7 linked regions of the Homo sapiens genome follow. The gene in region 7 interacts genetically with the main gene of each other region. Each region holds a gene or a part of one and is shown on either strand. Other genes may lie near its edges. The genes, in order: PPP2R2A, CENATAC, LEO1, TIMELESS, UBA2, CTNNBL1 and RBM17.

Evidence for each region.
Region 1: changes in RBM17 (region 7) and PPP2R2A together harm fitness less than expected from each alone (positive genetic interaction), as found in Homo sapiens cells (one large-scale study listed by BioGRID).
Region 2: changes in RBM17 (region 7) and CENATAC together harm fitness more than expected from each alone (negative genetic interaction), as found in Homo sapiens cells (one large-scale study listed by BioGRID).
Region 3: changes in RBM17 (region 7) and LEO1 together harm fitness more than expected from each alone (negative genetic interaction), as found in Homo sapiens cells (one large-scale study listed by BioGRID).
Region 4: changes in RBM17 (region 7) and TIMELESS together harm fitness more than expected from each alone (negative genetic interaction), as found in Homo sapiens cells (one large-scale study listed by BioGRID).
Region 5: changes in RBM17 (region 7) and UBA2 together harm fitness less than expected from each alone (positive genetic interaction), as found in Homo sapiens cells (one large-scale study listed by BioGRID).
Region 6: changes in RBM17 (region 7) and CTNNBL1 together harm fitness more than expected from each alone (negative genetic interaction), as found in Homo sapiens cells (one large-scale study listed by BioGRID).

The regions. Positions count from the first base shown.
Region 1 is NC_000008.11:26,361,008-26,364,507, forward strand, and holds part of PPP2R2A (serine/threonine-protein phosphatase 2A 55 kDa regulatory subunit B alpha isoform), read left to right. Parts: coding exon 1-144; intron 145-1,676; coding exon 1,677-1,841; intron 1,842-2,713; coding exon 2,714-2,883; intron 2,884-3,500. UniProt on the Homo sapiens protein: Substrate-recognition subunit of protein phosphatase 2A (PP2A) that plays a key role in cell cycle by controlling mitosis entry and exit. Involved in chromosome clustering during late mitosis by mediating dephosphorylation of MKI67.
Region 2 is NC_000011.10:119,011,638-119,015,137, reverse strand, and holds part of CENATAC (centrosomal AT-AC splicing factor), read right to left. Parts: intron 3,200-3,500; coding exon 3,135-3,199; intron 2,990-3,134; coding exon 2,884-2,989; intron 1,907-2,883; coding exon 1,876-1,906; intron 145-1,875; coding exon 55-144; intron 1-54. UniProt on the Homo sapiens protein: Component of the minor spliceosome that promotes splicing of a specific, rare minor intron subtype. Negative regulator of centrosome duplication.
Region 3 is NC_000015.10:51,951,279-51,954,778, forward strand, and holds part of LEO1 (RNA polymerase-associated protein LEO1), read right to left. Parts: intron 3,298-3,500; coding exon 3,203-3,297; intron 1,986-3,202; coding exon 1,851-1,985; intron 702-1,850; coding exon 566-701; intron 1-565. UniProt on the Homo sapiens protein: Component of the PAF1 complex (PAF1C) which has multiple functions during transcription by RNA polymerase II and is implicated in regulation of development and maintenance of embryonic stem cell pluripotency.
Region 4 is NC_000012.12:56,418,427-56,421,926, reverse strand, and holds part of TIMELESS (protein timeless homolog), read left to right. Parts: coding exon 1-28; intron 29-117; coding exon 118-200; intron 201-433; coding exon 434-576; intron 577-792; coding exon 793-964; intron 965-1,045; coding exon 1,046-1,114; intron 1,115-1,239; coding exon 1,240-1,358; intron 1,359-3,500. UniProt on the Homo sapiens protein: Plays an important role in the control of DNA replication, maintenance of replication fork stability, maintenance of genome stability throughout normal DNA replication, DNA repair and in the regulation of the circadian clock.
Region 5 is NC_000019.10:34,438,381-34,441,880, forward strand, and holds part of UBA2 (SUMO-activating enzyme subunit 2), read left to right. Parts: intron 1-264; coding exon 265-386; intron 387-3,500. UniProt on the Homo sapiens protein: The heterodimer acts as an E1 ligase for SUMO1, SUMO2, SUMO3, and probably SUMO4. It mediates ATP-dependent activation of SUMO proteins followed by formation of a thioester bond between a SUMO protein and a conserved active site cysteine residue on UBA2/SAE2.
Region 6 is NC_000020.11:37,865,030-37,868,529, forward strand, and holds part of CTNNBL1 (beta-catenin-like protein 1), read left to right. Parts: intron 1-3,500. UniProt on the Homo sapiens protein: Component of the PRP19-CDC5L complex that forms an integral part of the spliceosome and is required for activating pre-mRNA splicing.
Region 7 is NC_000010.11:6,113,034-6,115,490, reverse strand, and holds part of RBM17 (splicing factor 45), read right to left. Parts: intron 1,984-2,457; coding exon 1,910-1,983; intron 1,443-1,909; coding exon 1,344-1,442; intron 253-1,343; coding exon 180-252; intron 39-179; coding exon 1-38. UniProt on the Homo sapiens protein: Splice factor that binds to the single-stranded 3'AG at the exon/intron border and promotes its utilization in the second catalytic step. Involved in the regulation of alternative splicing and the utilization of cryptic splice sites.

The sequences.
Region 1 (3,500 bases), on a different chromosome or scaffold from region 7:
AGGCCAGTCCACGAAGAATATTTGCCAATGCTCATACATATCACATCAACTCAATTTCTATTAATAGTGATTATGAAACATATTTATCTGCAGATGATTTGCGGATTAATCTTTGGCATCTGGAAATTACAGACAGGAGTTTTAGTATCCATTTGGTTTTCTTTGGTGTTTGGTGAAGAAGGCATGTTGTGCCCATATTAGATTTATTTCATCTCTCCTAATGAATTTGGTTGCTTTTTATAGTCTGTGTACATATATGTATGGCACCTTATTTTTTTCTTTGTAGATGAGTAATGAAATACTGGAAAAAGTTATTTGCTAAACATAAAGGGCATAATGTATTGATTTAAAATTGGATTCATGGAATTTTAAGGAATTTGTCTATTGTATCTATGTAAATAGGATTATTTTTTATAATTTAGGTTTTTGTTTTAAAAATCACATTTGTGAGGTCTGTGTATGGTAGCTTATGCCTGTAATCCCAGCGGTTTGGGAGGCTGAGGTGGGAAGATCACTTGAGGCCAGGAGTTCAAGGTTTACAGTGAGCTTGATTGTGCCTCTGCACTCCAGCTTGGATGACAGAGCAACACCCTGTCTCTAAAAAAATTTTTTTTCTTCTAATCAAATGTATGAACTACTGTATTTGAATTTTTTATTGTAAAAATAGTCTCACCTGGCTGCGGTGACTCAGCCTGTAATCCCAGCACTTTGGGAGGTCAAGGTGGGTGGATCACCTAAGGTCAGTAGTTCAAAACCAGCCTGGCCAACATAGTGAAACCCCGTCTCTCCTAAAAATACAAAACATTAGCCGGGCATGGTGGCGCATGCCTGTAATCTAAGCTACATGGGAGGCTGAGTTAGGAGAATTGCTTGAACCTGGGAGATAGAGGTTGCAGTGAGCTGAGATTGTGCCATTGCACTCCAGCCTGGGCAACAAGAGTGAAACTCTGTCTCAAAAAATATATATATATAGATTTATATATATTATATTAATTGATATTAAGATTAGATTAAGATTAGATTAAGATTAATCTTAAGATTAGATTAAGATTAATTTTAAGATTAGAAAAAGATTAATAATTAGATTAGATTAGAAAAAGATTAGAAAAAGAAAGATTAAAGATTACGATTAGATTAAGATTAGAAAAAGAAATTCACGCAAGTCATGATGCATGATTGGGTAAATAAAAATATTCTATTGAGGCCGGGCACAGTGACTCATGCCTGTAATCCCAGCACTTTGGGAGGCTGAGGCGAGGCGGATGGATCATGAGGTCAGGAGGTCGAGACCAGCCTGGCCAACATAGTGAAACCCCGTCTCTACTAAAAATACAAAAAAAAAAAAAAATTAGTCAGTTGTAGTGGTGTGCGCCTGTAATCCCAGCTTTTCTGGAGACTGATGCAGTAGAATCGCTTGAACCTGGGAGTCGGAGGCTGCAGTGAGCCGAGATTGCGCCACTGCACTCCAGCCTGGGTGACAGAGTGAAACTCCGTCTAAATAAAAATTAAAAAAAAAAGTTTTAATCCCTTTGGAATTTATACTCATAAAAACAGTGGAGTGCAATTCAGAATTAATATTTTTGCTTAGGTCCATGAATGGGTTTTAGGTTTGAGAAATGTAGAATTATATTTGCCCTTTTTTCTAAGTGGAAATTCCTTAATAAAATGTTATCTAGACATTGTGGATATCAAGCCTGCCAATATGGAAGAGCTAACAGAGGTGATTACAGCAGCAGAATTTCATCCAAACAGCTGTAACACATTTGTATACAGCAGCAGTAAAGGAACTATTCGGCTATGTGACATGAGGGCATCTGCCCTCTGTGATAGACATTCTAAATGTAAGTTTATTGTATCTTTCCTTAAAATGATTACATATTCTGTTTGTCTGAAATAAGCCTCAGACATGATAAGTACAATTACAGAGGTTCAAAGTCTTAAACCCGTGTGTCCAGAGCCACTTGTACCCTTGGTAATCTGCCTACCTCCTCATGAGGCATTCCAGGTTATTCCTGGAAGCTCTCTTGGGGGGCATGTCTATTGATTGCCAAGGAATATATCTCTCATGGAATGCTGTTGTTCTTTGGTAACTTGCGGTTGGGCTCTGTAACCTTGTATTGAAGTAGAGCTGTTCCTTTCTTTCCCATCCTCCCTTCCTACTTTGAGCTTCCTAGGAAGATTTCTTCTGAGGTTTCCTTGGCTTAAAAAAAAAAAAAAAAAAACAACTTTGGTTTAAAAACTTCAGGATACAATATTCTTGTCTTGTTGAATATTAACTCATGAAAATTGATACATGCCTGTTACCAAAATAATTTTACCTGGCTACTAGAAAATAAGATCCTGGTATGAATTTGGGATGGGCGAGGATGGTGTGTTTCTCATGGTGATGATACAGGCAGTCAGTGAGGCATATTGCAGGAATAATACCAATAAACCTGGTGCACTGAAGTCAGAAGTCCCAGGTGAGTCTGGTTCTAAATTAGTCATATGACTGGAAGTATACTGCATACTTATGCATCTTCAACTTCAATATTCAATTAAACTAAGAAGCTTTCAGGAGAATTCTAGCCAGAGAGATGTTTTTCAGTTCTTTATTAGCCTGGCATTTTACCTCACTTGTAGGGAGTTTGTGAATGGTTGTTTAGGAAATGCTTTGTCCAAGCCAGAATATTGTACACCTTGCCCTTTTTGTGTTGTTTTGTTTTGTTTTTAGTGTTTGAAGAACCTGAAGATCCCAGTAACAGGTCATTTTTTTCCGAAATCATCTCCTCTATTTCGGATGTAAAATTCAGCCATAGTGGTCGATATATGATGACTAGAGACTATTTGTCAGTCAAAATTTGGGACTTAAATATGGAAAACAGGCCTGTGGAAACATACCAGGTATTTGAGTTTTTTCTTTCAATGAGCATATACCCTGTTTACTTTGAAGTGTTTATAGAGAAGGATTTTGTTACTAGGTTTTAATCCCTGTATGGTGTTTGTTCACCATTAGGCCTTTTCCCTCAGAGATCTATGAGTATGTTGCTCTTCCTTATGTTAAATGTATATATACTTACATAGGTTGTGTTGTCTCTTGAGTTTTGCAGTTAAAGTGTGATTTTGCTACCCATTTGGTTCAGTATTGACATTGTTTTTTTTTCTGCCACTATGTACATTTAAAGTGAGGATGGAAGAGCACCCTTCATTGAGGTCTGGGCAGGAAGAGGATTGGAGAAAGTGGCCAGTCCTTAGTAGAGGTGCACCTGCTCAGGTTGTGGGAGTAGTTGAACTAGAGATTAAATTTGGTGTGCCAAGTCAAATGGACTGGTGTTCTGCCTTTTGGCAGATAACTGTTGTCTTCAGCTAAAAGAAAGGGCTTGAAAGCCTTAGCAGATGGCTTTAGGAGTTGCCTATCCGTTGTTGGATGTCAGTTCTTGATTCTCTTATCAGCCAGCCACTACTGTTTATCCGTGTCCACTACATCAAACAGAAGAGAATGAAGTACACAGCCTGGAACA
Region 2 (3,500 bases), on a different chromosome or scaffold from region 7:
ACCATTTTTGAGTGTGAAGATTTAGACGATCCTCTCTTGAATTAGTTTACTTACTTTCTTTAAGAAATTCTTCATAGGATGGTCCTATTTCTTGGTTCCCAGCAATGTATTCTTCATCTTGGATCATCCAGGGAGGTGTGGCACCTGAAAAAAAAATTAAGGCTTTTTTTTTTTTTTTTAAGTCTTCAGGCTATTGTGAAACATGTCCTAGCTGTTAGCTTACCTCTCCTCATTAAGAGCTAGAAATGTCTAAAAGCAAAGCCCAGGAATTCTGGAGCTTTAGAAGGCCCTAGGCTAATTTAAAGCGACATACCCCATATGTGACAGTCATTTTAAAATGGCTTTGAGGCACAACTGACATAAACGATACACACTTAAATTTGGTGACTTTTGAGCGAAGCCATTACAATCTAGACCCCAAACATCCCCCTGTAAGTATCACTGCCCCCATTAAAATATTTTCATGTCCAGGCAATCGGTGATCTTTCAGTTGCTTTATTGGTTTGTATTTTTTAGGATTTTCTGTGTGTGGACATTGAGGTGGGGTCTGGCCTTTTGTTTTTTTGAGAGGAGTCTCGCTCTAGCCCAGGCTGGACACAATCTCAGCTCACTGCAACCTCCGCCTCCCAGGTCTCGGTTCAAACAATTCTGCCTCAGCCTCCCAAGTAGCTGGGATTACAGGCGTGCGCTGCGATGCCCAGCTAATTTTTGAATTTTTAGTAGAGATGGGGTTTCACCATGTTGGCCAAACTGGTCTTGAACTCCTGACCTCGTGATCCGCCTGCCTTGGCCTCCCAAAGTGTCGGGATTACAGGCATGAGCCACCACGCCGGCCAGGTCTGGACTTCTGAGATTCATCTGTGTCGTACGTATCAATAATTCTGTCTTCATCCTGGAATACTATTCCATTGTTAATCCATTTGCCTGTTGATAGACATCTGAATTGTTTCCAATTTGGAGCTGCTACAAGTGAAGCTGTTCTGAAGATTTGTGTACAAGTCTATGTAGACAGGCTTTCTTTTCTCTAGTTAGGGGTGGAACGGTTGGATAATGTGGTAGGTGTATCCCAAACTGTTTTCCAAAGTGACTGTACCAGTTTACATTCTAAGAGCAGTGTATGAAGGTTTGGTTTTTCTACACTGCCAAACACTTGGCATGATCAGTCTTTAATTTCTGCCATTCCAATACATATGTAGTGGTATTTCACTGTGGTTTTAATTTGCATTTCTCTAATGACTAATGTTGAACATTATTCATATGCTTTTATTGGGTTGTTTCCTTATCAAGTTGACAGTTCTTCATATATTCTGGATATAAGGCTTTTACCGATACATACGCTTTATCTTGGCCAACTTTATTTAAAAAAAAAAAAAAAGTCCGGGCACGGTGGCTCATGCCTGTAATCCCAGCACTTTGGGAGGCCGAGGCGGGTGGATCACGAGGTCAGGAGATCGAGACCATCCCGGCTAAAACGGTGAAACCCCGTCTCTACTGAAAATACAAAAAATTAGCTGGGCGTAGTGGCGGGCGCCTGTAGTCCCAGCTACTTGGGAGGCTGAGGCAGGAGAATGGCGTGAACCCGGGAGGCGGAGCTTGCAGTGAGCCGAGATCCCGCCACTGCACTCCAGCCTGGGCGACAGAGCGAGACTCCGTCTCAAAAAAAAAAAAAAAAAAATTAGCTGGGTGTGGTGGTGCACACCTGTAACCCCAGCTACTTGGGAGGCTGAGGCAGAAGAATCACTTGAACCTGAGAGGCAGAGGTTGCAGCGAGCTGAGATTGCGCCACTGCACTCCAGCCTGGCGACAGAACAAGACTCCATCTCAAAAAAAAAAAAAAATCTCCCAGGGTTTTAAAAACACTGCCCTGGACCTTACCTGAGTGGATGTTACCAACTCCTGGTATATCCTGTAGTTGGAAATGGGAAAAAAAGTGCTAGTTAAAGTCTAGGCATGATTAAAAAAAAAAATCCTAGAAACGATAGACAAAGCACACTTTAAAAGAGGTGGGTGTGACTGCTGCCACAATGCTAATTCTGCACCCCAGCTGATGTTAAACTTTGAAAGCACAGTAAGTCACTCTAAGACAACCCTGTCCTCAGGAAGCTCACAGTCATAACAGTGGAGATGTCTGTAAGTAGAGTGGCTATTACATGCCAGGGGAGCAAAACCTTGCCCTCACAGCATACATATAATTGGGGAAGAGCATTAAGCACAAGTTACGTAAATTACATTTGCAACTTTACATGGTGCTACATCCACTTGAAATAGAGATAACCTGTTCAGATAAGCCTTTTATGAAAAAGTGACATTTGAGCTAACAGTTGAAGGTAAACTAGGTGATGAGGGAAGGAAAGCAGGTTTTAGACAATGGCAACTGCAAAAGCCCGAAGCAACACAATACAGCTGAAGTGTAGAGTAAAATCATAAGTGGTACAATGATTTTCTGTTTGTGAGGCAGGATTGAAGGGGGAGTAGAAATTGCCCAAAGGCTGAATGGAGGCAGACAGGTTAAAATTGACCGCTTGTTGACAGGATATGGGAGATGGAAAAGGAAAGGATCTGCATCTAGTGATTGGAAATATAGGAGTGGTGGGGGTTAGTTTCAGATGCCTGTGGGATATTTAATGTCCTGTGTTGAGTTGGAACTATGAGTTCTACAGAGGGCAAGATTTAGGAGTTGGCACTCCTAAGTGTCAATACATGTGAATAGGATCGCTTTGGAGGGTGAGAAGAGGTCTGAGAACACTACTAGGGAACAGTGAAGGAAGAAGGAAAAGCCTGCAGTGGAGGCAGCAGTGGCTTGAATAGGTAGAAAATCAGGAGAAAGGGGTCCTGAGACCTGAGGGACCATTGGCCCTCTTCTGGCTTGCTTATCCTTTGTACCTGATGGCCAATGAATGTCAGAGATGGTCCTGTCTCCATCCAGTCAAGCTCTGGAGCTGGTGGCAGGTCCAAATTTGAGGGCTGCTGTAAGCTGGAAGCTACTTGGCTGAAAAACATGAGCCAGGCTGCCAGATGAGGTCCTTGAGCCATGAGGGTGGTAAAGATTAGATCTGTTTCCATTTCCCAGGCAAAAGGTTGCAGAATGTTCTAAGATGTCAAATTCCCAACAAGAGATTCCCTAATAGTCTTACCTGTTCATCCCTTTCCAGCTTCTAGGTGCTGAAGAGCCCTCTTCTGGGTCTGGCACTGCCTGAGGCTGAGTTTGATTCAGGAAAAATAAATGTGTCTGGGATGCTTAAGAGCCTGCCTAGGCCATGCCTCCACCCTCCAGACCCCAGTATCACAGGAAGGAAACAAATTAGCATATGGAAGGTACTGCCCATCTTTTACAGACTCTTCCCTCCCTCCCTCCCAGTCCTGTCCACATATTCACTGACTAGGCCTGCCCCCTGGCACACAGGTAAGGGAATTCAAGCCAAGCAGATGAGAATGCAGTCAGAGTTCTCTTAGAAGCACTGGTTCATGGCCGGGCACAGTGGCTCATGCTTGTAATTCCA
Region 3 (3,500 bases), on a different chromosome or scaffold from region 7:
CAGGAAAGGCCAATAGCCAATATGAGCACATGCTCTATCGATTAGGTACAATGCCCCAAATAAACTTGTGCCTAATTAACAGCTGGGTCAAATTTGAAAATATACCAGGTAGAATGTTACAAATTGACCTTAAAAACTCATAAGCTCGTCTTATTCTTTACCAGAGTCTACTTTAGGCACTCTCTCATTCAAACTCCTGGTCTATTCTCTATTTTACACTACTCTCTAGTATCTCCACTGACTTCTGACATGGATTCTAAACCACACATAGATGACTTAATGATCTTTGAACTTATACATGAAAATTCAGATATTTCAATCACCGGTTTGTTGCTGAACTCTCAGGGCCTGGTGAAGAGAGAACCTGAGCCCTGTTTCTGTTTTACTATCATTGCCACGTCACCAATTGTTTGGCAAATGCTGAGGAAATGAATCCAGCTCCCTATTCATGTCAGTTGGAAGAGGAAAAGGTAGGCCAATAAGAGATGACGAACAAGCATTTTGGGAAATACTTGCCTAATATACCAAAGAATCCCAGGATAACGCTTAGGCTTAGCAAACATACCTTAATCATTTCTGTGCGTTGGCATTCAGGATCACGACCAGCCATTGGCAAGATTCTAATCTTCTGTGTCTTTGAACACCTATCTGCAAGTGACAGAGTCATCTTTCTATGTGTGGCACTGTCCGTAGAGTGAGGTCTGCCAGGAAATAAACGAAGAGCATATCACTGTTTACCAAATACATTTGTGAGCCAGTGATACCCACGTCACAGAAGTAAGAGCCCAGTGACCATTTCCTAGTCACCTGAAAAAATAGGCAGAGACACTCGACTGAATATACCAAGGTGGAAGATTGTGAGTTTTCTTCATTCTGTGGCTCACTGAGACATTCTTATTCCACAAATGAAAAACAGAAGGTTGGAGTAAAAAAGATTGTATGGCATGATCACCTTCTAGAAGCAATAAATGGATACGCTCAAGCAACATTAATTAGATACTACAGGTTGGTGCAAAAGTAATTGCGGTTTTTGCCATTACTTTTAATTAATATTAATATATTAATATTAATATAATTATCCTATTTTATAGATTTAGGAAACTGAGGCAAAAAGAGGTTAAGAAAGTGGCACAAGGTCACACAAGTAGAAATGGAATTCAAATATGAGTCTAACTGATTCCAAAGCCTGTATGTTAACCTTTATAATTTCAAAAAGCTAAATCATAACCAACATTATTGTGCCCCCTCTAAAGATAAGCATTACCCAAAGAGGATGGTCTGCTTATAATCAAGAAAGAGAAGCATGAACATCTCAGTGCAGCACATACTCAGTCTAGAGAAGGAAAGTGCCCTCACCAGCTGAGTATTCCTGTCCTCTTGGGGGACACACCTCTGCAGTGGTATTAGATGCCGGGGCCTACGGCACTGAGATGGCCCGTCTCACACTGACCAACTTGCTGGCTTTCCTTCGATTGCATGCACAACAACAACCTCTAGTTATTAGTCTCCCAGGTCAATTTTACTAAAAACAAAGGACACACTGGCTAGCAGACACACGTATTTTAGGCCTCTTGGCAGTTATAATAACCACTGGAATTAAATACATTGACATTCTGGTTTACCTAACAGTCTCTTGTAAGTCTGGTTAGCATGACCTGGTTCCCTAAGAAACAGCAACTTTTAGTGTATTTGACAAAATAACCTTTGAACCTTCAGAACTATGCACAAGATCTTGGTTCTTGCTGAATCATACCGTGGGGTTACATCAATCAGGTGGCAGGCATTACAGAAACATCTATGTTTCACTGCTTTTACCATAAGAAATAATACATAATAATAATAACAGTTACCTGAAGGTGAGTTTCGTTTTAAAGACTGCTTGTCCCTGTAGACCAGTACCTTGTCTTATAAAAAGATGATTGTGGTCGCCCTGCAGTGGGGCTTTGTACACATCAAACACTTCATTGCCTAAATGCAGGGACATGCTGGAAAGAGAAACATTTCATCTATTAAAGTCATAAAGCTTTCACTCTACCATCTTACTTCACTTAAAGGTGATTCAGGCTGGGCACAGTGGCCCACATGTGTAATCCCAGCACTTTGGGACACCAAGGCAGGTGGATCACGAGGTCAGGAGTTTGAGACAAGGCTGGTCAACATGGTGAAACCCCATCTCTGGTAAAAATACAAAAATCAGCTAGGCATGGAGGCACACCCCTGTAGTCCCAGCCTTCGGGAGGCTGAGACAGGATAACTGCTTGAACCCGGGAAGTGGAGGTTGCAGTGAGCCAAGATCGTGCCACTGCACTCCAGCCTGGGCGACAGGACAAGACTCCATCTCAAGGAAAAAAAAAAACAAAACAAAACAGGTGATTCAACTGCTGCTCTCTCTTTTTACACAGAATTTGGAAGGAACGAAAATAAGAAGTCATAATGAGAAAAACTGATGGACTACAAAGAACTAACACATGCTGGGATGTTTACCAGGCTCTACTACATTCCCAGTGAAGGGCAATTTTTTTAAAATGTCAATTTGTGGCTGGGCACGGTGGTTGACGCCTGTAATCCCAGCACTTGGGAGATGGGAGGATCGCTTGAGCCCAGGAGTTCAAGACCAGCCTAAGCAACATATGGAGAACTGTGTCTATGAAATTTTTTCTTTTTTTTTTTTTTGAGACGGCATCTAGTTCTGTTGCCCAGGCTGGAGTGCAGTGGCGCGATCTCGGCTTACTGCAACCTCCGCCTCCTGGGTTCAAGGAATTCTCTGCCTCAGCCTCCTGAGTAGCTGGGATTACAGGCGTCCGCCATCACACCCAGCTAATTTTTAGTAAAGATGGGGTTTCACCATCTTGGCCAGGCTGGTCTTGAACTCCTGACCTCGTGATCCACCCACCTCGGCCTCCCAAAGTGCTGGGATTACAGGCGTGAGCCACCGTGCCTGGCTCTTTTTTTTTTTTAATAATCCATGCAGGGTGGTGCACACCAAGTAGTCCCAGCTACTTGGGAGATGGGAGGATCACTTAGGACTAGGAGTCTGAGGCTCCACTGAGCTGTTATCATGTCATTACACTCCAACATGGGCAACAGAGTGAGACCCCATTTCTAAAACTAATAATAAATTTAAAACTAAAAAGTATTTCAAAACTTGATCCCTCTGACCCGTTCTGGGTATGTCAATACCCTTCAGGCGTTTTGTGCTCACCTTCCATCTGACCACTTGACTATCCGAGCATTGCTTTCTTTAATTTCATTTCCTTCTTCATCTCGGCGTATCCTCCATCTTATAGTATTTTCTACCTGTTTCACAACACAAGTACTTTAGAAAATTATAGTTTAAATGACTCTATGCATCTTGTTTTTCCTCAAGAGGCACATAATCACAGAATAAGCATACAGAGGTGACAGATGTATGTGTGGCAGGAGAATGAACAACACTGAAACCCTCTTTAATCACCTAGAGAGGTTGGATAAATTAAAAGCAGGGAAAAAAATATGCTTAA
Region 4 (3,500 bases), on a different chromosome or scaffold from region 7:
TGGCTGACAGTGTCAAGGACTTCCAAAGGTAGAGAGGCACATGCTCTGGAGGCTATTGGGATGGGGACTCGTGATCACTTCCTGGGCTTCCTCTTCCACTGACACCTTCCTAATCAGGAAAGGAACCCATATTGTACTGTGGACGGGGGATCAGGAGTTGGAGCTGCAGCGGCTTTTTGAGGAATTCCGGGACTCAGATGGTGAGTAAGCTGGAAACTCAGGGGACCTTTGAGATGAAAGCCAAGCTATCCATTTATTTTGGGGCTGCCTTTTATTCCCAAGGAAAGATTCTCCCATCCCTTCTGTTCACTTACTATATTTGTAAGTGTCATTTTTGGATGAATTGAGGTACCCTCTTTCCAGAGACCTCTGATTTATTTTACTCATCTCTTTCCCTGTTACCCTTGGGTATTCACATGCTTGCTTTTTATAGATGTCCTGGGTCATATCATGAAGAATATCACAGCCAAACGCTCACGGGCCCGAATAGTGGATAAACTCTTGGCTCTGGGGCTGGTGGCTGAGCGGCGGGAGCTGTACAAGAAACGGCAGAAAAAGTTGGCATCCTCCATCTTGGTAACAATCTGACCCTAGCTCTGCTGGCATGGGCTCACTTCCCTTGAAGTGGTCCTTAGGAGCAGTCCACCTGGATTCTTCCTGCCTGAGGCTGTTCTGACCAGGTCCTTCCGAGAGAGCAGGCGCGGGGGGGTGCGGTGGTCAGGAACGAGGAGACTCCACTAAGTTCCTTGTGTTGCCTTCATTTTCATTCCCCCAACCCCCAATGAATTTTAGCCAAATGGAGCGGAGTCCCTGAAAGATTTTTGCCAGGAAGATCTGGAAGAAGAGGAAAACCTGCCTGAGGAAGACAGCGAAGAGGAAGAAGAAGGGGGCTCAGAAGCAGAACAAGTCCAGGGTAGCTTAGTCCTTTCAAATGAAAACCTTGGTCAAAGCCTGCATCAGGAAGGTGAGGACTTTGGCTGGGAGAGATGTCTCAGGTGGAGGGCTTGGGAGTAGGGTCAAATGTAAGTTTCCCTCATTTCCTTAGGCTTTTCTATCCCGCTCCTATGGCTCCAGAACTGCCTGATCCGAGCAGCTGATGATCGGGAAGAGGATGGTGAGTGGACAGGTGACACTTTTAGGAGAAGAGCCCTGGAGGCTATTGGAGACCTACCTGGTCATGGGATGGAGAACCAGTTCTTCCCTTATATCTTCACCATATGACTATTGACCCTGTCTTAGGCTGCTCCCAGGCCGTTCCATTGGTGCCACTCACAGAGGAAAATGAGGAAGCCATGGAAAACGAACAGTTTCAGCAGCTGTTGCGCAAGCTAGGGGTTCGGCCCCCTGCCTCTGGGCAGGTAAATATGTCAGTTACAGTGTCAACCAAGGCGTGTTAGTCCTATTTCCAAATACATCTCCTCCTCCTCCTCACTGTCATGGTGGTCCTCCTTATCCTTATCGTCATCTTGGTCCTTCTCATTGTCTTGTCATCTCTGACCAAGATTCCTGCAGCAGCCATTCTGCTAGTCTTCTTTTCCTCTCTCTAATCTCCCCTTCCCCTAGATCCATCTTCCAGACTGCCTCCAGATTTATCTTTTTAAAATATAGTCTTGATTACAGTTGTCCCTTAGTGTCTGAGAGGGGATTGGTTCCAGGACCCCCCTGCCCACAGATACCAAAATCTATAGATGCTGAAGTCCCTTTTTGTAGTATTTGTAAATAACCTAGGTACAACCTGTATACTTCGTCATTTCTAGATTACATATAATACCTATACAATGTAAATGTTAGGTAAATAATTGTTATACTGTATTGTAAATATATATATATACATTTTATTTATATATATATATATACACACACACACACACACACACATATATATATATATATATATTTTTTTTTTTTTTTTTTTTTTTTGAGACAGAGTCTCACTCCATCACCCAGGCTGGAGTGCAGTGGCTCAGTCTCAGCTCACTGTCGCCTCAACCTCCCAGACTCAGGTGATCCTCCCACCTCAGCCTCCTGAGTAGCTGGGACTACAGGCCTATATTACCACTCCCAGCTAATTTTTTGTATTTTTTGTAGAGATGGGGTTATGCCATGTTGCCCAGGCTGTGTATTATTGTTTAATGTTGTATTGTTATTTTTTTTTAATATTGTCGATCTACAGTGGTTTGAATCCACAGACTCAGAACTTGTGGATATGGAGGGTCAAGTCCTCTGTCCAGAGCCATTGATGGTTCCTTACTGCTTGCAGGACAGAATCCACAAACTCCAAATGGCATCCCCATCCTTGGCCAACCTTTGCAGCCTCACAGCCACACCACTCACACACCGACTTTACATCATAGTCACCCTGGTAGGCTTTTTCATGCCTCCAAATGGTTAATCATGCCAGTCCCTCTATTGGAAGGCTGCAACCGTGCACACAGGGTGACACACACACACACACACACACACACACTCCATCTGTCTTACTGATGGACCTCTACCCAGTCTTCAAGAGTCTGCTCAATTGTCACCTTGTCAGAGAAGCAGTCCTTGTCATTCTTTCAACCCCTGAAGTAAAAATAATCACTTTTGCAGCTGTGATTTGTTCATGCCCCTGATGCAGCCTTAATCCTGTGGAATCTGCTGGGTATGGTGGCTCACGCCTGTAACCCCAGCACTTTGGGAGGCTGAGGCAGGCGGATCACCTGAGGTCAGGAGTTCAAGACCAGCCTGGCCAACATGGCAAAACCCTGTCTCTACTAAAAATACAAAAATTAGCCCGGTGTGGTGGTAGGCACCTGTAGTCCCACCTACTTGGGAGGCTGAGGCAGGAGAATTGCTTGAACCCAGGAGGGTGAGCCTTTATTGCTTTGCCACGGCACTCTAGCCTGGGCAACAGAGTGAGACTCTGCCTCAAAAAGAAAAAAAAAAAAATCCTGTGATACTACAGTACATTTGTTCTTTTTCCCATTGGATTGTGAGTTATTTGATAGCAAGGATCATACCTGATTCACCTTTACATCCCCAGGATTTATTTATTTATTTATTTATTCAATTGACAACTATAGCCAGGTGTAGTGGCTCATGCCTGTAATCCCAGCACTTTGGGAGGCTGAGGTGGGAGGATCGTTTGAGACTGGCCTGGGCAACACAGCAAGACCCTGTCTCTACAAAAAATTTTAAGTAGTTGGGCATCATGGTGGCATGCACCCCTGTGGTCCTGGCTACTTGAGAGGCTGAGGCAGGAGGATAGCTTGATCCCAAGAGATCGAGACTACAGTGGACCATGATTGTGCCACTGCACTTCAGCCTGAGTGACAGAGGCAGACCCCTTCTCATTTAAAAAAAAAAAAAAAAAAAGAACAACCAAAAAAACCTATAACTGGGAACCTCCTAATGTAGCAGGCACTGTGCTAGGCACTGGGTATATATTAGATAGTAAGTATTATAATAAATAGAGTTCACAACCCTTGTGGATCTTCACCAATATTGGGTCATATATATTC
Region 5 (3,500 bases), on a different chromosome or scaffold from region 7:
AGTAATTTTTATTTGGGCTTGTAAGTCATGTTCACTGAACCAGGAGTCGGCGTCCTGGCACAGCCTTAGCTATGACTGGTAGATTCAGTTAGCTTTTGTGTTAGTTTATCATAAAGTAAGCATTTTGGAGTCACTAATATTTTAAAATTTCCTTGACAACGTAAAACGTAGTTGGAATATAGATGAATGAAGTGTTTATATTACCTTATAATGTTGAGAAACTGCCATCATGGAGTAAATTTTTCTCATATCCTGACTTCATAGGGTGTGACCGAGTGTTATGAGTGTCATCCTAAGCCGACCCAGAGAACCTTTCCTGGCTGTACAATTCGTAACACACCTTCAGAACCTATACATTGCATCGTTTGGGCAAAGTACTTGTTCAAGTAAGAGTGTATATTTCTTGGCATGCTTTTCGGTACTGATGATGGAAAATGGAGTCATTTTTATTTAATTACCTTGAAGAGATTGAACTCAGGATGTTTAAATATGGTGAAGGGATGCTTTAGTAGCTTTCTTGCAGTATTTCTTAGGTTAAATGTAGCTGGCCGGGTGCGGTGGCTCACACCTGTAATCCCGGCACTTTGGGAAACTGAGGTGGTCGGATCACCTGAGCGCAGGAGTTTGAGACCAGCGTGGCCAGCATGGTGAAACACATCTCTACTAAAAATACAAAAATTAGTTGGCCGTGATGGCGAGTGCCTGTAATCCCAGCTACTCGGGAGGCTGAGGCAAGAGAATTGCTTGAACCCAGGAGGTGGAGGTTGGAGTGAGCCGAGATCGCGCCACTGCACTCCAGCTTGGCAACAGAGTGAGAATTTGTCTCAAAAAAAAAAAAAAAAAATGTGGCCATGACTGTTCAGGAAACTTAGTCTTATATTGGAGACAGCCATGTAACTAAGCGATAAAAATCTTTATATTTGGAAATGTGAACATTTACTTACAAATAACCCATTGGTTATAAAAGAAATCACAATGGAAGTTAAAAATACTCTGTACTGATAATGATGAAAATGCTATACCAGAATGTATTGAATGTGGTGGTTGGCAAAAAGTTACAGATTTACATACATGAAGAAAGGCTGAACATTAATTACTAAATCTTTACTAAGAATCCAATTTAAGTTAGAAAATGAACCACAGAATACACTTTAAGAAATGAGAATGGTGTGGGCATGGTGGCTCATGCCTCTAATCCCAGCACTGTGGGAGGGTGAGATGGGAGGATCCCTTGAGCCCAGGAGTTTGAGACCAGCCTGGGAAACATGGCAAAACCGTGTCTCTACAAAAAATAGAAAAATGAGCCAGGTGTACCTGTACTCCCAGCTACTTGGGAGGCCGAGGTAGGAGGATCAGTTGAGCCTGGGAGGTTGAGGCTGCAGTGAACCGAGATAGTGCCACTGCACTCCAGCCTGGGTGATAGTGAGATCCTGTCTTAAAATGAAGAAAGAAAGAAAAAAAGAATGAGAAGGAAGGATATTAATTGAAGTAAGAGCACATTTGATTACAAAATAGAAGAGGAGTAAGTGAGAACTAAACGGGGAATACAGATAGCAGAGATTAAATAGGCTATAAGAAAAAAAAGGGATGATAATAAGACCATGGTAGTACATAAAAAATTTAAATGATCTGGGTAAATACATTTTTAAAAACTTACTAAGTGCCCAGTGCGGTGGCTCAGGCCTGCAATCCCAGCACTTTGGGAGGCTGAGGTGGGTGGGTCACTTGAGGCCAGGAGTTTGAGAACAGCCTGGCCAACATGGCGAAACCCCGTCTCTACTATAAATACAAAAATTAACCAGGCGTGGTGGTGGGCATCTGTAGTCCCAGCTACTTGGGAGACTGAGCCATGAGAATCACTTGAACCCAGTGGGTGGAGATTGGGCCACTGCACTCCAGCCTGGGGGACAGCATGAGATGATGTTTCAAAAAAAAAAAAAAAATGAAAGGAAAATAGAATGCCTGAATTTAGCAGTATACCTTAGAGCAATGTAAGTAGTTTAAATTATTCTAAATAATGCACCGAACCTATGTTATTTTTACAGATTCATTTCACAAAACTTGCAAGGAGTATATTGTAATATTAGCTAAACTCTCCCTGAGAAATTTTTAAAAGGGAATACTACTTAGCTTGTGTTATTAGGCTAGCAATGTCTTTGATAGCAAAACCTGTCAAGGCCATTATGGCATAAGAAACAATTGCTAGTCAGTCTCACACCTAAATAATAGATGCAAAAATCCTATGTAAAATATTAGCATATCCTGGGAATGGGCGCAGTGTATCATGCCTGTAATCTCAGCACTTGGAAGCTGAAGCGGGTGGATCACCTGAGGTCAGGAGTTCAAGACCAACTTGGCCAATATGGCGAAATCCTGTCTCTATTAAAAATACAAAATTAGCCGGACATGGTGGTGGGCGCCTATAATCCCAGCTACTTGGGAGGCTGAGGCAGGAGAATTGCTTGAACCCGGGAGGTGGAGGCTGCAGTGAGCCGAGATCGCTCTGCTGCGCTCCAGCCTGGGCAACAGAGCAAGACTCCATCTCAAAAAAAAAAAAAAAAAAATTACCATATGGATCTAGAATCATATAAAATAAAAAGTGTGTCTTGACCACGTGTCTATTCAGGAATACAAGCATGGTTTAAACTAGAAAATCTGTAAATGTCATTCACTCATTAGGAAATTAAAGATAAACTATATAGTTTTCATAGATACAGAGAAAGCATTTGGTAAAATTTAGCAAATGGCCTTTCATGATGAAAGTTTCTACTAAAACAGAATAAAAACTTACTAGGCCGGGCGAGGTGGCTCACGCCTGTAATCCCAGCACTTTGGGAGGCTGAGGCGAGCGGATCACGAGGTCAGGAGATCGAGACCATCCTGGCTAACACGGTGAAACCCCATCTCTACTACAAATAAAAAAAATTAGCCGGATGTGGTGGTGGGTGCCTGTAGTCCCAGCTGCTCAGGAGGCTGAGGCAGGAGAATGGCGTGAACCCGGGAGGCGGAGGTTGCAGTGAGCTGAGATTGCACCACTGCACTCCAGCCTGGGCGACAGAGCGATACTCCGTCTCAAAAAAATAAAAAATAAATAAATAGATAAAATTAAAAATAAAAAAACTTCTTACTAAAATGAGAATGTTCTCAACCCGATAAAGGGTATTTTGTAGAAACCTTCAGCAAACATTGTCTTTAATTTTTGCACTCAGAAAAGTATACATAACAGTGTCAACTTGATAAATGTTCACAAAAACTACACTTGGAAGCTTTATTTATTTGGCAAACATTTTTTTTCTTTGGGAGGCTGAGGTGGGTGAATCACTTGAGGCCAGGAGTTTGAGAACTGCCTGGGCAACATGGCGAAACCCTGTCTCTACTAAAAATACAAAAATTAGTGGGGTGTGGTGGCACACGCCTGTAGTCCCACCTACTCGGGAGGCTGAGCCATGAGAGCCGCTTGAACCTGGGAGGCGGAGGTTGAAGTGAATGGAGATCATGCT
Region 6 (3,500 bases), on a different chromosome or scaffold from region 7:
AGACTCAGAAGGAGCTATGCACAGCGGTAAGGAATGTGCCAACTGCTGATTGGCCCATATGCTCCTATGGGCTTTTAGGAGAGAAGAAAAATGCAGGGCACTCACCTTTAGAGAGCACCAATTTGACATCACAGGGTGCTAGGCAGGCTTCTAAGATAAGTGAGACACTCAGGAGACCCTGTCCCCAACAGGCATACGTCCCTCACAAGTGAGGTGACTGACCATAGCGCAAAGCAGAATGGAGCCAGTGCTGGGATGCAGAGGTACAAGGGGAATGAAGACGGCACAGTTAACTCACAGTTAATCCGGCTGGACATGAAAAGGAGCCCAAAGATCCAGGGAAGCTGTACGGAAGGCATGGCTTCTTTTTTATTTTTTATTATTGTAGTAATAATTTATCGTTTTGACTATTACTACCATCACTACCATCTATCCACAGGCCTTTTTTTCATCTTGCAAAACTGGAATTGCCCGTTCCTCCCTCCCCCCAGCCCCTGGCAGCCACTATTCTGCATTCTGTCTCTGTGGCTGCCTGCATGGGAAGGGTTTCCGCAGGCAGCTACGCATGGGCATTGTTGAGCAGTCATCACCTTGGCTGTGGCGTAGGAGCTGTGACCCGAGAATGCTTCGAAATACAAATATTTGTGCCAAGGGTTGCAGTGGAAGCCACTGGCCAGTCTTATCGATGTTTTAGTCTCCTGGTGAAAGTTGTTGGAGGACCACACAGATGCCCAGGAGCAGCCATGGCTACTGCACAGTGGCTGGTTTGCAGAGAAAATCTTAGAGGATTACTGACTCAAAACTCTCTCACTGCTGGGCGAAAAGAATGAGCCAGAAACTTAAATGCTTTTAGAATTTGGCCCATGGCCCTTTGATTTGCGAGTATTCTTTATGGTTTAAAATCTCCTCCTAGTAGCTCATAAACATGTATTTCCATATTGATTTGGGGCTCTTGGTAACCCAATTTGTGTGATTTTAAAGCTGCAGAGGCTGATAGGATTTATCTTTGGATGACATGTTGGCATGTGCGTGGCTTGCGCCTGGTCATGGATACGGTGTCCCACAGGGTATTTGGAGGCAGGAAAGGATCATGGAGAGAGGCCTGTATGTTAGCCCTGTAGCCAGCGGCCTTGACAAGGCTCAGAGGCATCTTAAGGACACCTCAAGAGCTTTTCAGCAAAGATGTCACATTTGCCTTAGGATTGCTGCCCCCGGGCCTCACACCCAGTTCACCCAAGAGGGCTCTCGGGAAGCGCTGCCCGGGGTAGTGTGGTGGTGGTATGCAGGGGTCGGGGGGAACCACTCTTGGAGAACCAACTGTGCTAAGACCATGGAGCCTGCAGTGAGTTGCCCAGGTTCACAAGCAAGCTCTGTCGCTTTCTAGTGTCTGACCTCAGGCAGCTCTTCCCCTCTCCAAGCCATAGCTCCTGCATCTGTAAGATGGGGAGAACCTGTCTCAGAAGGCTGCTGTGAGAATGAGGTGAAGTGCTGTATGTACAGTGCTCGCATGGTGGCTGGCACCTAGAAGAAAGTGCCTGTTACATGTTAGCTGTCTTTATTGTTATAATTAGTGTCCAAGCTCACCCAGGAACAGAGATGCTCAGACCAACATAAATTCTGGATCTCCATGTAACTCTGGGCAAGTTAGTAGGTAACATATTTAAGTCTTGGTTTCCTCCTCTGTAAAAAACACAAAGAAAAAAACACCTAAAATAAATATTGCCTCTCTCAGGAAGCCTCCAAAGTTAAAATGCAGTTGGGTGCCTGGGACCAAGTTACATACTCAGTAAATGGAAGTTCCTTCCTTCCTTGACCTAATCCTTTCGCCTGGAGTTAGCAGCAGCTTGGACTGAGATGCCACCAGGAAAAGCAGGGACCAGCACACAGGCTCGACTTCCCCGGGGCCTTGTGGGGGTGGGTGGTTGTCAGTGGGTGCTTTTCCAACTGTGTAAAACATCCATGGGACTCTGAGAACATGACCATTGGCATTGTAAGCAAGAGCAAGGGTCTTTCTCTGTAAGTGGGTTTCATTTGAATGGCATCCCTGATGAAATGAGAACCTACTGCCTAGCAAAATATTCTACTTCTGGAGAAGCGCAACTTTCAACCTTCCAAGTTCATTGTTGTTGTCAAGGAATCTCTGTTAGACCTGAAGGATTTTCCTTTCTCAGTTTCTATTTTGTGGTTATATGTACATCTTCAAGGGTTTTCAATGTGAAAATATTGGGCATTCCTCCTCTCTCCTCCCTCTTCCTCCTGCATTTTTAAAAAGGTGAACATGTAAGGCTTAAGGTTCATGGATCTGAACCAGGCTTGTGAATACTCATCCAGGTCTCCGCCCTGGAAGACGACTTTTCCCCATCCACCAGCCCCAGTGCCCCCTCCCTCTCCCTCTCAACATAAACAGAACAGCTTGTATTCCATGTCTGAATAGTAAACCTGCTGTCTAAAGTTTGCTTTAATATTTATGCGTTCAGCACTGCTGCCTGTTTCTGAGTTCCATCAAAGCCTTTATTATAAGAGCATTTGAAAATGTGGGGGAAGTAGAGAAAGGAGTTGACGTGTATGCCGTCTTTCTCACTCTCCACTGACTTAGCCTCTTCCCTCTCTCCCCTCATCCTTTTCTCCCTCTCCCCTCATCCTGCAGTCTCTTTTCCTCTTACATACACATGCACACACGCACACACGCACACACACATGCAGCAGAGAGAACTCTTTCCCAAGACCTCTGGGAGGACTCTGTTCAATATTTAAACTGCTGCAGCAGCTGTAATAACCAGAGGTAGCTGGCACCACCAAGATTTGCTCTAAATAGGACTCTGCCATAGAAACAAAGAATGAGCAAGGGCAAAGGGTGAGGTTGAGGTGCCTGAGGGTGCAGCTTCCCCGGGCAGTGGATGAGCACTAGGCCAGTGGATGAGTACTAGGCCGGGTCGTCGGACCTGGTTCTGGGCCTGGCTCCGTGGCCGGCTCACTGTGGGACCCTGGCCATCCACGTGCCCCCTCAGGGCTGCAATAAATTTCTGAGAACCCTTCCAACTCTGATATTTGGTAACTTGGCATAAGAGAGGGTGACCCCAGCCAGTCCACCCACATCTGTCCTGGCCACCGAGGCCACTGTACCATAAGACATTCCTGTTTTGGAATGCTCACAGAGCAGAGTTTTTTTTCCCAAAGACTAGGGGCCAGGCAGGGTAGCCTGTTGCTTAGGTAACAGGATGCTGCTGTGAGGACCGGCCCCCTCCCAGTGGTTTTTTAGGGGCCTTTTTTTTTTTTACTATCCACACATTTCAAGGTTTGAATTCCGGCTCCTCTACATCCTAGACTTGGGCGGGTTGCTTCAGTTCTCTGATAGCCTCTGTTTCCCCCTGGGTAAGTAGGGATGGTGTTCTTTACCTTGTGAGATTGATGCAAAGGTTACATGTGAGACAACCTAGAAAATGCAGGCACATAGCAGTGCACAGCACATGTTAGTTCCACTCCGCTCTGTATGGGACAGG
Region 7 (2,457 bases):
CCGTCCACCAAAATACCTCCCATTCAAGTCAACAACCGCTGAAAGGCAAACAAAAGACAGTTAATACAGGTATCCTATAAGATAAAGGTTTAACTTTAATTAAACAGTAACTTTACTTGTAAAGATTAAGGCTGTAAATTCAACTTTTTTATTCTTTAATATTTAGCTGTACCACTAACCTTTAATTGCTGATTCAACTCTCTCAAATTCTAAAAATATCCGTACTGCTTCATCATCAGGGGCACCAGGAATCTGGAAGAAAATGAGAGCGTGATGAGTAAAGGCATTTGAGATTGCATTGAATGAGTTTTCTCTTTTAAATGATTTCTCAGAGTGGATATTCTAATTATCATCATATACAGTCAAGTAGTTGTCAAATACCAAGGAAATAAGTATAATTTGTTCATCATCAAAAACGTACTGAATGCCTGTTTTTATGACAGGCATTGTTAGGTGCCAGGAACACAGGGCTAGGCAGTCTCTGACCTCATAAAGGCCCTGTGCCAGCTGATGACGTAAACAAATAATTATGTGGTCAACAAACAGCAACAGGATAAAGAAACAGAGGAAGCAGAGCTTTCAGATTAAAAAGGCTGGTGCCCTAGTGGCCTTTCACATCAGGTCTCATTTTGACTAGCTCTGTCTAGCTTTCCTAGCCCTCTGTAATTCCACCCACCTAAGCACTTCTGCTAATCCCCAACAGGCCCATCCATTCCATTTTGGTAGTCCTGATCTTCACTGTCTCCTACGAGCCATTATCCCAATCAGAATACCCTTCCCTGCAAATCCCACCTGTTCGTTTCAAAGCGCAGCCCATATCTGCTATTGCTCACAAGGCAGTCTATTTTTTCACTGATCTAATCCTTTTCTCAACTCCTGAACTTAGTCAATACTACCTAGTCTAGTAACTGAATATCTTTCAGTTATTTTATGTGTTTCTTCAACTGAACACACCACTGAGAGTACAGAGCATGCTTCCTGTAATCCAAGTGCTCTCCGCACAGTGCAGTGCATGTGAGAGGCACTAAATACTCACCAAATGACTGAAACCAAAGGCATGTCTAAGGAACTAAACTACTGAGCACGCTAGAATCAAGGTCTTCAGTCATCATACTGATCCTCAATCATGAAGCATTCCTGTTTCTTCATCAAATAAAACTTGAAATCATTGTCTTTATGTTTAAAACTGTAATAATTGAGCAAGAGAAGTACAAATAACCAACGCCTGTCACCTTCTGCAGTAAGAATGTTACTTATAGCATACCCTGTCCTGTTTGTAGAAAATGTTTTGTAATGTGCCAATTACAACTTGTGTTATAAACATCAAAAGAAAACACTCTTACTTCAAATATCACACATTTTCCAACTTTGCCATATTTTTCACATTCTTCCTTGGTTTCAACTTCCAAGTCTTCATCCACCTCTCCCGCACCAACCATGTTCTTTAAACACAAAAATAAACAAATTCAAGTACCAAGTATAACTTACAAACACCTAGCAGAGGTATATAAATATGACTTAGTGATGGTAAATGTTCTCAATCCCAAACGACATAATGAAAAATTTCATCCCCAAAGTACCCAAAAGTTAGTATTTCTTAAAACACTAAAACATATATTAAGCCTGTAAAGAGTTACAAAAGCATCTATGCAAGCACCAAAATGTATAAACTATCTGAAGCTCTAGCAATTTCAAATATTTAATTACTCACTGCAGTCTTAAACACTGTACTTAGCAAAGAGACTTACACATTAGTGAAAAATCTAAAATCAGCCTTACGTGGGATCTGCCCAAAGTATTATTTGCAAAAGTATCATTTTCAGTTTTAACTTTTAGGGGGAGCAGGGTAGGCTGGGGTGACACACACAAATCTAGGCAGGCAGAGAGCTTGCTTTCCTCAGCTTCTTACCCTTAGTAAGACCACTTTAGTAGGACACTTAAGTATTTCAGTCAGCGGATTTGAATCTGACTTCTTGGATGCATCTGTATCAAAACATACCATTAGATGTGTTACAGAACTGAGCAGCATATCATTAGATGTGTTACAGAACTGAGTCCTACTTACAATAATTAATTTAATTTCAATAGCGATCCCCACCATTTATGTCCTAGGCATCTACACAATTGGTCTCTGAGCGAAAACACAGCCTTATCTGCAATAAAAGCCTCTGCTTTGCTTTGGCATGTTTTTACAATAGCATCTGGATGTTTTGAGCCTCCACCATTACTTGCAATTTTTGCTCATCTCACTTCCCAAAGGGCTGACAGGGCATGTGAGTGATAATTCCTATAGGTGAGTTGACTTGGAGCAAACGTTCAAGGTCACGGGCCCAGGGGAATATGCAGTTACTAATCCAGCCACCGGCTGCCTTACTTCAGATAACCTCACAAGTCGGGACAACTGTTGGTTTCTGGCACTCACCTGTCAGGCTCGTGATGTATCCTAAGCTGTGCATG